Regions from separate parts of the Homo sapiens genome. Here regions 1, 3 and 4 are each linked to region 2. Evidence: fine-mapped expression QTL. A gene starts in region 2. Each other region holds a variant in brackets. All regions are shown on one strand. Distances are from middle to middle. Region 1 overlaps DPYD (dihydropyrimidine dehydrogenase). Region 2 holds the start of DPYD (dihydropyrimidine dehydrogenase). Region 3 overlaps DPYD (dihydropyrimidine dehydrogenase). Region 4 overlaps DPYD (dihydropyrimidine dehydrogenase).

The links. PIP is the estimated chance that this variant, and not a neighbour inherited with it, causes the effect. A credible set is the group of variants that fine-mapping cannot tell apart.
Region 1: its variant is the best candidate, but not a certain one, in a credible set for the expression of DPYD in whole blood (INTERVAL, PIP 0.87).
Region 3: its variant is the best candidate, but not a certain one, in a credible set for the expression of DPYD in esophagus muscle (GTEx, PIP 0.59).
Region 4: its variant is the best candidate, but not a certain one, in a credible set for the expression of DPYD in whole blood (TOPMed, PIP 0.61).

Annotation. Positions count from the first base shown.
Region 1 is chr1:97,867,502-97,871,673 of GRCh38, forward strand. All of the region lies in intron 2 of DPYD (dihydropyrimidine dehydrogenase), which reads right to left. Among named protein-coding and RNA genes, the nearest start is that of DPYD, 51 kb to the right of the region's middle. The variant T/C (reference allele first, on the strand shown) is at 2,145.
Region 2 is chr1:97,918,802-97,922,973 of GRCh38, forward strand. It overlaps DPYD (dihydropyrimidine dehydrogenase), which reads right to left and starts at 2,233. Exons shown (of 23, transcript NM_000110.4): 1 at 2,083-2,233. The coding sequence starts at 2,121. RefSeq lists a silencer at 2,039-2,438.
Region 3 is chr1:97,556,626-97,560,797 of GRCh38, forward strand. All of the region lies in intron 11 of DPYD (dihydropyrimidine dehydrogenase), which reads right to left. Among named protein-coding and RNA genes, the nearest start is that of DPYD-AS2, 240 kb to the right of the region's middle. The variant T/TAGAG (reference allele first, on the strand shown) is at 1,817.
Region 4 is chr1:97,076,650-97,080,821 of GRCh38, forward strand. It overlaps DPYD (dihydropyrimidine dehydrogenase), which reads right to left. Exons shown (of 23, transcript NM_000110.4): 23 at 1,094-2,497. The coding sequence ends at 2,327. Among named protein-coding and RNA genes, the nearest start is that of DPYD-AS1, 17 kb to the right of the region's middle. The variant C/T (reference allele first, on the strand shown) is at 1,559.

The DNA of each region.
Region 1 (4,172 bases), 51 kb before region 2:
ACATTAAAAGGACCATTCACCATAATCAAGCATTATTTACCCCCAGGATGCAAGGATGGTTCAACATACACAAATCAATAAGTGTGATATACCACATTAATAGAATAAAGGACAAAAACCATAGGATCATCTCAATTGATGCAGGAAAAAACATTGGACAAAACTGAATATCCTTTCATTATACAAATACTGTAATCATTAGGTGTAGAAAAAATGTACGTGAACACAATAAAAGCCATGTATCACAAGCTCACAACGAACATCATATTCAATGGTGAAGAGCTGAAAGCTTTTCCTCTAAGATCAGGAACGAGACAAGGATACCCACTTTTACCATTTCTATTTTACATAGTACTGAAAGTCTTAGCCAGAGCAATTAGGCAAGAGAAAGAAATAAAAGGCATCCAAAACGTAAAGGAAAAGGTTCAGTTGTGTGTTTGCAGGTGACATGGTCTTATGTATAGAAAACCCGAAAGCCAACACCAAAAATAGTTCAAACTAATAAACAAATTCTGTAAATTTACAAAATACAAAATCAACATACTAAATTCAGTAACATATCTACACATTAACAATAAACCACCCAAAAAAAAAAGAAATCAAGAAAACAATCCCATTTACAAGTAGCTAAAAAATATATAATTAAGAACAAATGTTTCCAAGGAGTTAAACTATTTATATCATGAAAACCATAAATCTTTGAAGAAAACAATTGAAGAAGAGAAACAAAAAGTGTAAAAGTTGTCAGAATCTAAATGGAGTCAACGGCATTAAATACCTTGACAAATGGGGCCACAGTAGGCCATAAAGGAAGGGTTCTCACATACACTCTTGATAACATACTATCTTGATAACAAGAACTATCACAAAAGACTTCAAATGATATCTGTAATTTATTACTAAAAGATAAAATATTATTCGAAGAAATCAAAGCTAAATGATTAATCATCTGAATTACCAATTACCAGTCATTACCAATATTTAGGTAAAACTAAAATATTAATAATAAAAAGTACTACTTAGTGAGCATTTACCATGTGCTAAACTTTGTATTATACCCTTTTAAAATTCCTCAGTTCATTTAACTCTCAAAATAATGTAGTTAGATTACCATAATTATCAAGATTTCTATTTAACAGTGAAAGAAACTAGAGCTAGCTAGTTAAGGTGAAGAATCACACCCAAGATCAAGTTAGTAAATGTAGAGACGATTTCAGTTTGGGCATGTGTCTCTGAGTCAGAGCTGATTATATTATACCCTACTGCCTCACACAACTTAATCGTAATTTTAACATATCCCATAAAAATAAAACACCTCTATCTAGGTCATTAAAACTTGACATATACCACTGTGCTCCTTAGGATTTTTTGGTTGTCTATATCTCAAACATGATTTACATAGTTTAAGCCAATAAAAAGAGTCTATCCAAGAGTATCTCACAAAACACAAAGTTGCAAAACTCTCCCTACACAAAGCCATGAGAAACCTGCGCAGCTTCTTTTTCTATGACTGCCTCTATCTTCTCTCTCCTCAGCCTGGCCTTTTCTGATTTTCAGTACATGTTGCAAGTGGAAAATGGCCACCCTGCAGCACCAAGCTTTCATTTTATTCCTGCTCAAACAGCCCAGAATGAAAAAGAATCTCTTGTCATAGATATCTAGGAGAGAATCTGATTTCCCCAGCCTCGGTCAGTTCTCTCCATCAGATTCAAGTGGCCAGAATGAGGGCCAGAGTTAGGTGGTACAAAGAAAGCTTCAAGGGTCTATGCCAATAAACTTGTGGATTTGTGTGGTAGGTACCTTCAGAAGTATACATCACAGTCAAATTTATCCAGAATTTGTGATAAATATTCCTATCTTCTAGGAAAGAATCCTATAAATAAGAAATATAATAAACAAAGGAAACAATCCAAAGAGGCTGTATGTGAGGGGGTCAGAATGTCACCGCAAAATATGTCACCTTGGTATAAGGACCATTTTGAGCTGAAAGCACTTAAGAAACAACAAACTGCAGAAAGAGCTCTTTGCTCTTTGCTCTCTCCCTATCTGCCTAAAAGCAGACATAAATTTCCTTTTGTGAAGGTGTTCCCCTCCCTTCTTCCATACCAGGAGGAGAACAATCCTTTATCACTGGATACAGAAAG[T/C]TGGCACCAAGATGGATTTGCACAAACAAACCTTGCTAAAATAGCCCTTATCTTCCATTGGTATCCCTCATATATTTATCTTCCCACAATTTATCACCCCTAGAATCCCAAACCCCTTTTCCTTTGTGTTATCACTTCTGCACGATTTATCTCCCTTTATTAAAATGGTATGTAAGCCCCTGGGTTTAACTCCTTCTTTCTGTCTTCATTTCTTTCATGTGAAGGTCTTGTGCACATATAAATTAAAATATGAACATCAAATACAATGTGTATGCATGTTTTCCTGTCAATCTGTCTTCTGTCAGATTAATTCACATGCCCCAGCCACTGAACATAAGAGGTTAAAGGAAAAGGTTTTTCTTCCCCTACATACATTACACATAAATGTAGTATATACAGTTATTGATATTTGGAGCTCCATATTCAAATATTGATGTTGGAATTTTAACTACTGATTCAATTTGCAAATGCTGAATAGATATTAACATTTTTAGGATAAATCACATGAAATATTCTGGGGAATAGGTTAGTAAAATCTAAATAGATATTAGAAATTTGAAAGAAAAGAGAAAATAAAATATTCCATTCTGTCTCACTAATGACTACTGAATCAAAGCATGACCATGCAAATAGGGTATAACACATTTTTTTTGTAATTAAAGCAACTTCAAGATAGGTAACATTAAAAATATCCTGGCTTAATGAAAACAAAAATATGAAATGCAGTTAGGATGTGTGGATCTTTATCGTGTTATATAAAAATACAAATATTTCAAAATTCATAAACTTCAATAACGGAGAGCTATGACAGCAGAGTTCCACATTTTTGTTCATATTCATTTTAAGTGCATGACTGCAGGAAGGCGTTTCTCATGCTATTTCTCTGTGGTCCCTGATATTCAAAGTAGTACATGCAATATTAATGATCTCACTTTTGTGAGTATACAGCATACACCACATTCCCACCTAAAGAAAAGCTCCTCAATTCCTAATCATTTCAATAGGCTCTAATGTAATATTTCCTACATTGGAAATCACAGCACTTTATTTAAGGAAATCAGTTTGGCCAAGTGAGCTCTATGGAGTGCAGCCTGCACAGACGTCAGTTCAAAGGATCAGATGTCAAAGTGCTCCCTCTAATGTCCTTTAATCATCACTCCGATTAGTGCATGAATAGGACTGTGATTAAAAACGCTGCTGCCATTGTCTACCTATTCAGGCCTCTAGCATTTTACGTGGGTTCCACCGATTAGTGTTTGAATAGGGGAACGATTAGAAAGACAGCTGCCATTGTATGCCCATTCGGGAAAACAGCAAAACTCACATATTTATTTGCTATGAGCACCAAATAAATGTTTTGCAAAGGTAAAATATACCATTAGACTCTAAAGACAATTTTGCTGATTTCTTTTGTTCAGAGCACTGTATTTTCCCATATGCAAAGATGTTTCTTATTTGCAAATACAGTAATATGCTTCATTAATATCTTTTAAAATATACATATTTTGTTTTCATAGAAATAGTCTTAACACACATCTGCTTTATTATATACTACTTATTGACCTATAATACATCATACAATTCCAGTTTAATATTTATGATTATGCAAAGATTTTCTGTGTAAACAAATTCAATCTATTTGGTTCCAGATCTTTTGGATCCCTTCTCAATATTCTTGGACTAATACGTAGTCTATAAGAACAACTTCTTCTCCCAAGAGAAATTTCCTTGTCAGACACGGAGAATAAATATTTCACTCTTGGGCCATTCTAAGAGAGGGAACACATTTCAGGTTAGCAGTTAGTAGCCCTGCAGGAGCTCACACAAGAGAGCTTCGGCCAGAGTGGAATTCCCCACGACAATACAAACCTCTATCCTATGATAAAAATTCTCCAAGACCAAGGCATCATGTTGAGGCTTTTTGGAGAAGGGAGAAATACAGGCAAAAAAAAAAAAAAATCACAGAAAAAGAATCCATCCATATGCAAATATAAGACAGTGCTCAAAAAAATTTTTGTGGCTGTTTCT
Region 2 (4,172 bases):
CAATGTGTTCTTATCACATTCATTAACTGCTTCATACCAATATTTTTAAAATATTACTTGCTTATCCATGTATTTGAAGCTAAAACAATGATCACAATCAGATCTCTAGACAATGGTTGTAATGAATTTGTTCAAGAAAAGCATTCAAATTTGATGGAAAACTGAGCCTTTATAATTCATTCTAATTCTTCAACACAAAAATGAACTTTGGTAAATCAATAGGATCAACTGAGGCATTTATGCTTGAATGTGCTCCCCTAAGCTTAATGTATTTTTCCTCACTGCATTATATTTTAATGATTAATTTCATGCTCTTTCATGGTATTCTAGCTCATGAATCACGGGTATTACTTTGAGGGAAAAGTAAGGTGCTGTGAGTGATGAAAGATGTTACTGATTAAAGTGTTGCACATATGAACTACATAAGAGCTGAAGGTGTTTGAACACCAGCAATCTAGATTAAAAGTAATATTAGGCAAACTGGCCATATAGACTAAGGTTGAATTGAGTGGAGGGAGTGGGAAGGATGGGCTTCTTAAATGTTCTTAGTTGAAACAATATATGAAATCAAGCTTGGCATTCAATGTTTCACTGGCATCTTTCTCCTCAGTAGAATGTAAGAACTGATTTCGAAGACAACTGCAGAGAAAGAAATCAGTTAAGCAGATAACACACCATTCTGAAATTAAAGAGCCAAAAGCCACCCATCCTAAGTCAACTCCGATATCTTAAATCAATACTGCCTTAATACTGTCAGAAGCTTGTTTTTCGACTTAGTAAATAAAATTTTTTAAAAAGTTAAGTCAAAGTCACAAGGACCAAAAAGGAATAGACTACCCTAAATGAAATATAGAAAAAGACAAGTATCTATTATCCTGCACACAGATGAACAACTATTTGTTAAATATATCATATTGCTCAATATCAAAAAGTCAACTCTCCAAAACAGAAACCAAAAGTAAACTAACCAGAGATGTCCACATAATACACTTTGGCTCTTGTTACTAAAATGATTTTTCAAACCAAGTTATGGAGCCTGGAGAAAACAGGACTACTTCCTCCCAGAATATAAAGTTTCTTCAATTACGGAGGCAAAATGTGGCAAAAGCAGCTATTTTGCAAACAGGTGGTTTGCAAAACTTTTACTTAAGCCGCCAAAAGGACTGACGAAAGGAAAATTTTGTTATTTCTAAAGAAAACACACACACACATAATTTTCTACCAGAGTAGAAGACTCAAATAAAGAAAAGCCCCAAACAAAACAGAAAACTAAAAATCAGTTTGTCTTAGCTCAAAAGTGCTGACCTAGGTTTAGTATGTGTAAAATCACTGTTGATAATTAAATCCTTTTCATCGCATATATTAAGATACTAGAGAGAAAGGAAATGCCATGTCGTTTCAGGTAGGACCTTATTTACATAAAAAAAGATTTTTTTTAACAGAAACGGAGTGCAAGAGGGAATCAAAAACCGTTGAGAGGAGAGAAAAATACAGTTAGTTTTTCTGAGGGCACTGCATTTTTCATGTTCTGAATACTTCGTTCCATTCTCTCCATGTTAAATTATTTCATAAACAATACTATGACTAGAGGCGACTGCTACAGCTGACACACAGATGTTTTATTTCTATGCTTCACCTTTGCAAATAGCAGGATTCAGCTATTGGAAATGGGGGCAGTGGAGGTGTCCAGAAACGACATACAGGAGGTGAAGGGGTAGAACGTGTGGGAAATGGGCACTCCTACCCCCTAGAGTCCACCTCTCTGGAACTCCAGTGCTTCTTCAGTCACTGACATTCAGAGGAGGACAAGACAGGCTTCCTGAAATCTCTTCCGAAGTAAACAGGTCCCGACGCAAAGGGCAACCCCTCCAGTAGCGGAAAGTCCTCCCCTGAGCTCCCCGCCTGCCCACGCGGGCCTGTGGCTCCGCGCTCCTCCGCTCCCCCGCAGAGCTCCCACGGGGGAAACTTTCCCGCGTCTCTCACTCTCCGGGGTGCGGGGGCCGCGGGGGCCTCCCCGGCACCTACCCGCAGAGCACTCCCCACCACCCCGCCACCACCGACGAGCCGGCGCGAAGTCCGTACCTCGATGTCCGCCGAGTCCTTACTGAGCACAGGGGCCATGGCAGTGCCTACAGTCTCGAGTCTGCCAGTGACAAACCCTCCTTGCGTCCTCAAGCTCCAGCCAGAGAGCCAAGTGACAGCAGCCGGAGCGCGAGTCGAAAACAGGCAGACTAGGGCCGGCGGCGCGGGGGCGGAGCGGGCGCGGGGCGGCAACGCCCCCGGGGCGGGGCTGCGCTCTCGGTCCTGCGGCTCCCGCGCCAGGCACGGCAGCCGCAGCCCGGCCTTCCCAGTTCAGCCCGCTCCGCGCCCCAGCCTGCAAGCAGAAGGGAGGGAGGGAGTAGAGCACCCGCTCTGGGGACTGGCCTTTAATCTCTAAACTGCTAAAAACAGAGCTAGGCAGGCGGGGCCAGATAGGAGGGATCCCCAGGCAAAGGTAAAAGCAGTCCGCGCTCCAAGCAACAACTTGCACTTTTTCTTTTCTTCCACAGAAACCCCGCGAGATGTAGATACATTGTTTGAGGGGCAACTGCATTTTCAGGAACTCCTCAAGGATGAAATAGTAGATGTTCCTCCATCCATCCACCAAGTAGGTGGGCGGGGTTTGAGCTGCAGTGGAGGATACCAAAGCACCGGTCTTCTGAGAGTTCACAGCCCCAGCGGGGAGGGGAGGGAGGCGAGCAAAAACATCCACAGCCCGCAGCAGCATACAGGAAGTGCTGCAGGTGGTACATAATCAAGGTTGTCTTTTTGCAGGAAAGTCTCATTTTAATGGTTATTTTTTTAAATATTTTTTATTCTAAAACGTGAAACTCTTTTGAAAAGTTGCTCTTCGTTTTTGCTCTAGAGCTTGCTGAGGAGAAGGGAGAGATTTCCTGTAGAGTTGGTCCCAATCCAGAAAACATTCACCTCGTTTTTTGAGGATATGTGTACTCCAGACCTCTCTCCTTTTCTCCCCGCCCCCCCCCCACCCCTGTTAGATGCATCCCACCTCTCTTCTACCATAACACTTTCTACTTCCGTTAGGACATTTGCGGCACTCCTTCATGCACTTGGCTAGGTAGTGACACCTTGGAGTCAAGTATTTCTCCCTTATTATTTTTTCATTAGTCCATTCATCGTTTTATTCAACGAATATGTTTATTGAGCATTTTCAATATGCCAGACACAGACACTGTGCTAGGTTCTCCGGATATAGTCTTCAAGAATACACATCACTGTCATGGAGATTATACTCAAAATAAGCAAGTAAGAAAATGTGATGCCTGCTTGTAAGATAAAAGAAAAATAGGACAGAATAACTAGGGTATGGGTACCTTGCGTGGTTGAGAAGGCTTCTCTGAACAAACCATCAGATTACCTTCCAGAACCTGGAAATTACTAAAAGACAGATACATTTTTCTTGAATCAAATATTAACAGACACTAGAAAGTTAAATGGAAACCTTAGAATCATCTTTGACTCCTTTATCCTTATTGCCTCATTTAATCTATGCCCAAACTCTCAGAAGTCAACCTCCTAAATAGATTTTGAATCATTCATTTCTCCATTTTGCTGCATCCACCATGGTCCAAGCTACTGGTATTCTAGCTTCTATTCTTACCTCATATCCATACCAGATTGAGCTTTAGAAAGTATTAACTGGCTCATGCCATACAACGATACATCCACACACCCAGGTACCCATGGTATAAATCCTTCAATGGTCCATTGCAGTCAGAATATAATACAAACTCCCTAGTAACCGCTGAATAACCTGCTCTACTCCGCTTCTCCGCCACTCTTGCCCTGACTCATTATGTTCCAACCACAAGGTAATCTTCTCATCCTCCATCCACTTCTCTACCTTTGCACATTGCCCTCCACTTGGAGCTCTTCTTCCCCTTCTACTCATCATTTAGGTCTCACTGAAGCCTTTATGATCTAACCCCATCACCAACAAAATTACACCCACTCTGTCTTTTTCATTATATTTCGTCTTCATAGACTTTTCAAATGTTGTTTAAATATTTATTTGAATGTGATTCATTTAATATATGTCTTCTATTTAGAGAGGAAGCTCCAGGAAGAGGGGGCCCATGTGTACTTTTATTGTTTACTGGATACTCAGTTCC
Region 3 (4,172 bases), 360 kb before region 2:
ATAGTTTACTGAGAATGATGATTTCCAATTTCATCCATGTCCCTACAAAAGACATGAACTCATCATTTTTTATGGCTGCATAGTATTCCATGGTGTATATGTGCCACATTTTCTTAATCCAGTCTATCATTGTTGGACATTTGGGTTGGTTCCAAGTCTTTGCTATTGTGAATAATGTCGCAATAAACATACATGTGCATGTGTCTTTATAGCAGCATGATTTATAGTCCTTTGGGTATATACCCAGTAATGGGATGGCTGGGTCAAATGGTATTTCCAGTTCTAGATCCCTGAGGAATTGCCACACTGACTTCCACAATGGTTGAACTAGTTTACAGTCCCACCAACAGTGTAAAAGTGTTCCTATTTCTCCACATCCTCTCCAGCACCTGTTGTTTCCTGACTTTTTAATGATTGCCATTCTAACTGGTGTGAGGTGGTATCTCATTGTGGTTTTGATTTGCATTTCTCTGATGGCCAGTGATGATGAGCATTTTTTCATGTGTTTTTTGGCTGCATAAATGTCTTCTTTTGAGAAGTGTCTGTTCATGTCCTTCGCCCACTTTTTGATGGGGCTGTTTGTTTTTTTCTTGTAAATTTGTTTGAGTTCATTGTAGATTCTGGATATTAGCCCTTTGTCAGATGAGTAGGTTGCGAAAATTTTCTATTCCCTTTTTCTTTTCTTTTTTTTTTTTTTTTTTTTGAGGAGTCTCACTCTGCCGCCCAGTCTGGAGTGCAGTGGCATGACCTCCGCTCACTGTAACCTCCACCTACTAGGTTCAAGTGATCAAGTGATTCTCGTGCTTCAGCCTCCCAAGTAGCTGGGATTACAGGCGCTTGTCACCACGCACAGCTAATTTTTGTATTTTTAGTAGGGATGGGGTTTCAGCAGGTTGGCCAGGCTGGTCTCAAACTCCTGACCTCAAGTGATTTACCAGCCTCGGCCTCCCAAAGTGCTGGAATTACAGGCATGAGCCATCGCATCTGGTCCCATTCCCTTCTTCAAAACTAAAAATAGAGCTTACAAATCTTAGTATAATCCATGAATCTTGTTTCCAAATATATCAACATCCAGTCAGTTAACATGTTGTGCCAATCCATCCAATGAAAATTTTATCCTAGTTACTTCTTACATTCCATTAACATCACTGTCAACTAAAGAAGAATGTTAGAAAAAATAATCAATCAGCACTTATGGATCTCTAGTACATGGCAGGCATACTGCTGGATATTTCCATAGAATATCTTATTAGATCACAAAAGAACCCTTGAAGGTGGATATTATCATCCTCAATAAAGCCAAGAGGTGGCAGAGGCAGTATTTGAATCCAATTATTTCATCTCCAAAGTCCTGCTGCTTCTGACTTTGGGTGTGGGGGCAAGAGAAAGCCAGAATAAATAGACTCTCCACAGTCTCATAAAATTCAGCATTGGGGATCATGGGAATAACTAAAGTGAAGACAGGAACAGCAAAGAATTCTAGTCTTGGCTAGCTTCACAGATTCAGCCTTGAGAGCATCCTTTCCAATGAAACCTTTTTCCCCCCCTTTCTAGTGAATTAACCACTAACGACTTTCTGTTACGCTAGGCACTATGTGACTTTATTTCAAGTATTTGTTTTACCTCTACTACTCCTAAGTTCAGATAACTTATTTAAGTCAGCTACTTCCCCCCAGCATCTAGCATATAATTGGCATATAAGGGGAATCTAGTATATGTTTTTTGGTCAAAAAATGTAGTATTTGTCCATTCCATTTATTTAGCATTCATATTATTCTGTCTTAGTTATTTTTCTTGTAGATCTTATTTTCACAAT[T/TAGAG]AGTCAGTTCATCATGTGGAGAAAAAGTATTTCTACACTGACAAACATACTGACTAGGGAAGAATGGGCACATAGTGAATTTCTTTTGATCAATTTAAATATCTGATTTTCCTACTGCTATGGTTAGATAATTTTCAGTTTGAATATGCTAGTAGAATTCAGTCAGGGTAAAATACAGATCTGATCTTCTCCCTCACCCTATTCAGGATAAACTTAGGCTCCCCAAGTTGAATGGAAACGATGGATGTCAATAATAGCCTATAGCAACTCCTTTTGTGTTATTTGTATTCTATTGGAAGTTTCATTTCCACTTCCTAAACTGACCAACAAACCAATTCAGAATTAAAATAGTCCAAGCACTTCACCTTGATCTGCTTATGTCTCTGAAATAATTCTATCTATTTAAGACGCTGAACTCCTTGAACATTGGATTTCATTTTACCTGGAAGAGATCTCCTCCAGGAGGTCAGTGTCCTTGAAGTAAATATATGGGAATTGTTTTCAAATTCTCTGTTGGATTCCCAAATGCTGTACTTTGATTTGCTTATTTATATTCAATGATACCATCTCTTTAAGACTGCAAACTGCTTGAAGGAATAGATCATCCTTTAATCTGGTTTGGACCATAATCATTATAATTCTATGCACATTTGGGTGCTTAATATTTCTTGATAATTATGAGATAGTGAAAAAATAGCGTATTGAAATATTTTTTGTATACTTCTCAGCAAACAAAATTTTTTAAATGCTCAATTATGTCATCAAATGATATAAACAATTACTGAAAGGGGTTAAGAAAAATGTTTCATATAAAATTCCCATTTGCTGCATTTAACGGAAAAATAAAAACAAATAGGAAACCAGTAGTAAATTATACTACTTGTGAAAACAATATTATTAAAATATAAGTGAACACTGAAAAATATTTTAATTAACAAAATAAATCAAATGGAAAAGATTCCCTAAATAGAGCTTTAAAAGTAAGTCTATGTGTGTCTGACTGCCATGACTAATTATGTATCCATGTAATGTGTGTTCAATTTGGGCTTATTTAAATAGCAGAAATGCTCATTAGCTGCAGTATATCTGTGAAGCTTCAGTAAACAGTTTAATGGTTTTTATGTTTAACCAATTTCATAAGTTCCTGTAATTTTAGCTTTAGCAGCTCATTAATGTTATTTTTTGATATCCATCTTACGGCTTTTTTTTTTCCTTGTCAATCGTCAGTAGGCACACTTCAATGCAAACTTAAAACACACAGTAGAATTTTGTTTAAACAATTTTAGTACATAAGTAAATGTGCAATTCAAAAGTATAGTTTCTTTATATAGAGAACTAGCTGTATTATCATGCACTCAAAAAATATCAACATTGGCAAAGGCTATATCTAATGGGGATAAAACTATAATAATGGAAAACATTTATTGAGCGCTTTCATCAGCATGTAGCTGGCTCTAGGCTAGGCACTGTATATACTATCTCTTTGGATCCTCACAAAATAGGTATAACTCAATTTTATAGTTGAGGAATGTGAGATTGAGATAAGTTACCAAGGTCACACCCTTAGGATTTAAACCTCACTAGAAATTAACTACATATGTAGTTGGAAAATGCCTGAAAAATCCACAGAAGCATTTGGAGATACACACCTAGACCTCAGATGAAGGCACTGCAACTTGGGATCAAATAAATCACAAGGCTGGGTAAAGTTTCCAAAGAAAGAGTGCAAAAACAGGTGACAATAGAATCATCCACTTATTTTTAAAGTGTCAGCAAGCATAACCTGAACTAAAGCTAGAGAATAATTCCTCAGAGTTACGTGAGAATCAAAATATTTCTAAGCCACAAAAGCCAAGTAAAGAGGTAAATTCAACAAGTATTAAATACAAAAGAAATATAATGTAGGTAAATAGATTGATGACGTGGAGGTCAATGAACCGTAAAAAGGTGACACTTGCAGTTAAATAGTAAAGGCAAAAAACAGAATTCTGAAGTTATGGACAAAGTATCTGGCAAAGACATAAGACAGTGTACACAAGCTATTCTTCCCAGGTGTTTCATAATTTTTAATAGGAAAAAAAGCAAGGCATTACCTTGCCTTCATTCATTCAATTAGCAAAAAAAAAAAAAAAAAATTGTTTTTGGTCTCTCATGTATTACATCCTGCTGCAGGCACCGTAGTAAACCACAGATAAGAGACCCATCCTTGTGTGTTGTAAATTTCATCTGGCAGAAGATAAAAAATGAAAAGTAAATAAGTAAGTGAACTATATGATAGTGAAAATGGTTATGAATAGGGTTACATGAAAGAGACTAGTACAAGATGAGGGATGTGAGAAGCAGAAGGGGTGCTTTA
Region 4 (4,172 bases), 840 kb before region 2:
GGAAGTGCTCACTAACCACACTCTCTGGTCCGGTCTTATGTCCCCAATCATGTCTGGAGGTAAGGTGCCATGAGAATGTGTGTGTTAGGGTCAATGGCTCCTGGTGTGTTGCTGGATGGGAATAATGTGGTTTTCATTCTTCCTTATTCTGAGTCTCTCTGTAAATAACATATGTAAAATTGAGTTATGTTTTCTACACACAACATGGATAAGAAAGACTTCTTGGTATGAAATAGAAAGTGAATACAACAGAAAGAAATGTGTGTAAGGAAGAAACTAGTATAAAATCATGGATTGCCATGGCCTAACCCTGGTCACTTGTAGTTCTCCACAGTAGTTACAGAAACAGTTAAAGTATTTTGCCCTCTCTTTCTCAGAAAAAAATGCAAAGGTCATGATTATTTCTTTAATCTCGATCAAGGAAATTTCTGCCTGGCATTTGGCATTCAGTATCTTGAAGAGGACTCAGGTGTGTACATACATGGGATATCTTTTATAATATTCCCAGAAGGCTACTAAACTCCCAGAACTCCCAGAGTGAAAAACTCTCATCAGATTCAGGTAGGGGGTAAGACATTATGATGGCATCCACGTAGCCCTGGTAAATCTCTTTTCTAGATTACTGGAACTGTTTTCTAAGTGTTACCAACTCCAAAAGTTAAAATCCCTCACCACGACAAGAGTGCAAAGAGAGTCAATTTATATGAGTCAATAATATCACATAACTATCTAAGCAGTAATATTAAGTGAGGTGTGTACTTCCTACAGTGAGACTGGCACTTTCAGACAGGCAGGCAGGCTGCCACTTTCCATTTGTCCCTGCCCATGGGCCATTGCAAGAATCCTGGCCTGTTCCCAGTAAAAGATGCCTTTTGGCAGAATAGAATCTAATTCAGTAGGTAAAGATGGGTAAGAAGGACAGGAAGTGAAACATTTGAGTGACTGCACTATTATCACCCTTATTTTACTTAAACTAACATGAGTTTTATATCTGGATGGAATGCTCTATAGGACTAACCAAAAACTGCTCTATCTCAAAATCTAAATTGTTTATATGAAATTATATTTGCAAATGAGGCAGCAAAAGACCATATTTAAAATGCTTTATGATATTTTATTTGATATTATTCAGTAATACAGGTTTTGTGGCAAATATGCATTTCTAAAAGTGCATAATGAAACATTTTATTTTTCTAGCTCTTGAATTTGTCATAGAAATAAGCCATAGATTGTTACTTTCTGATTTACTACTTATAGATTCATATTGAAGATGCCATGAAGAGGAGATAAATGAGTTTATATGACACTATTTACTGATTATGAAAATAGAGAAATACAAAAATATTATCTAATAATAACAAAAAATATATTTCTTTTAAACATAAACACTAAAACAGAGAGTAGTCAAACTGATTTGGCACACTTAATATATATTATCAACATTATATTTTTCATTCTTGAATAATGAAGCATTGCATACTTTGAGCTTTGTTCAAACATTAGTTGCTATAATCATGAAGGTGACTATTAAAACCAGTCAGAGCCCGTATGTGCACAG[C/T]AAAAGAGTGGTAACCAGGATCTATCCTATCATCTCATTTTGTTAGGAACATAGTTTAAAGAGAAATGCCATTAAAAGAGGATGAGTTTGTACACCCATCTCACGCATGAGTAGTGAATGGTATTTAGTTAGTAAATATTCTCCCTATCCTCTATCCAACACCAAAAATAAGCAATTTCAGCGAAGGGGATTTTACTTAATAAAGTTCTACAAACTCAATTTTAGGCTTTCTTATCCTGCCATAGCAAATAATTTTTTGACTTTCTTCATTTGTACTTTATGGAGCTAACTACATTTTCTTAGAAACAGCATTAAAATTAAAGGTAATTTTTAATGATAAAATGTTTCCTTGGATACATTTTCTTGTATGTTAAAGAGTACTTTGTTTCAAAATGCTTAATTTCACTTACAATTAGAAATCAAATATGGAGCACAGCATAGGGCAATTTGGAAACTGTCACACTAATTGCCACAAAAAAGTTAATTTTTCACATAAGACAACTGGCAGTGAACATCCAATTAACTGCCACACAGTTATTTAACTACTATCCTCAGAAAAGAATTATTCTATTTTATGACCACTAATTGAATGGTCATTGACATGAGACATTTTTTACACTTACAAATGTATTTTGAAATTACATATTTTTATTTAGAAAATGTATATTTGTTTTAATTTGGAAAGAGCTGAACACAAGGATCATGATTTTAAAAGATCAGCATATGTAGGTGACATGAAAGTTCACAGCAACTGTTTCACAAATCACCTTAACACACCGGATTCACAGATAAGGGTACGCCTCTCTTTGGTTCATAAGGTGTTGTCCTGGAAACCATTTTGATGCAGTCGACAATAGGGCAAACACTGAGACACAGAGTACAGCCTGTACAAGTGTCGGTTATGGTGGGCAGGTGGGTTTCTGGATCAAACTGTATAGCCTGCAAACAGAAATAGAGGGTATTGATGTCACTGACCACAAAGGTCAACAATGTCCCCATTTTAGCGTTAACATTTTTCTCTGCTGCAGAGGAGCCACACTATGAGACAACTACGTCCAGCTCTATGGTGCAACTATAGCAACAGTTGAGCTGACAGAGGAGGAAAAAAAGAGCGAGAAAAGAAATCCTTTTAAATTAAAAACACAATGTTTAAAATTCCTTAGGGGTATTTTTCTTCATTGTGTGAGGAAAATATGTCATAACATAGTCACTCTCTAGTTTTCTTTGTTCTGAGCAGAGTTCGGGTCTTTCCAGTTCTACCAGGATGGGGCGTCTTCTACCTGTGGATTTTGGGGGACTTTCACACGTCCTCCTTTTCCTCTTCACACTCTTTGTTCTTGACAGTGGAAAAGTGTTACTGTCAGATTCTGAGGCAATGAATACATTTGTTTGGATTTCAAATAATGCATGTAGTTTTTAGAAGAAAGCAGAAGAAAAAAATTAGCTTAACAGTCAGCTTTGAGTTTTGAAGATTTCCAAGCTGACTCTAGTCATTGTCCACCACGAAGGGGAAAAACACTGAATGGAGAGCCAGGAAAACTGATGTCCAGTCCTGGCCCTGACACTATTGAGCCCAGATTACCACAGCCAGGCCTCCAGCTCTGAAACGGCTTAGGATTTTGAGAAATTTTACAATTTTCCTTCCCCCGTCTTCCTCTATTCCCTCCCTCCCTTCCTCCCTCCCTTCCTCTCTTTTTCTTTCCATGAAGCAATGTAGAATAAGCAATTAAGAATACCTAGTATGAAATTCAGGACCGAGTTTTTTTTAAAAAAAGATATGATGATTATTTTCCCATTAAAGAGAAACATTTCAATGATGAAAAATGACATGTAAGACCTCAGCGGAAGTTACAGGATTTCTATCTAGGAGGGATTTCAGGGCAGCTACGTAGGGGTGGATCATGGTGTCAGAGGGGATTTAGGAAACTTGCCTGGCAGTCTCACTTGCAAAAAAAATACAAGAGTTTTACTCAGACTGTGTACTACTTTGAAGTGACTAAGTCGGGGCTGAGGAAATTACAAGGGACAATAAGTGTCTCTCCACCCCCATGGTACCCCTTGAGGCCAGGTCTACAAATCTTACATTTTCAAGGAATTGCATTATTTTGATTTTTTTCCTGTCTCATACCAATGTTATAATTCAATTATATATGTGTGTATATATATATATAGTTGTTTAAAAAATTCCCCCCTCCAAATGAAGCTGCATGCAACTATATTTTTTCTCTTTTATGCACATATAAATGAAAATAATATTTTCAGAGTAAATCATGATAGTTGCTTAATATTTTTAAAAAGTCTGATCTGTAAGGAAATAAACATATATTTGAACAAGAACTATAGCTATAGCAAGTCATGAGAATATCTGTCCACACAAATTGGTGCTATGTTTTGTAAAACAACATTTTAAGGTGCTGTTTGGATGAGTAAAAACGATTTATCTTCCTTAGGTACCCTTTTATATAAATGGAAACTCAATGAAGTAACTGATAAAAATTAAGACTAATGCTTAGAAATATACTTTGAAAATCTGCAAAGATATAAAACTTTATGTTCAATTAAAAATTTTGGCTTTCTATTTTTATCTTCTGAGACAGAAGAATCAAAGAACTTT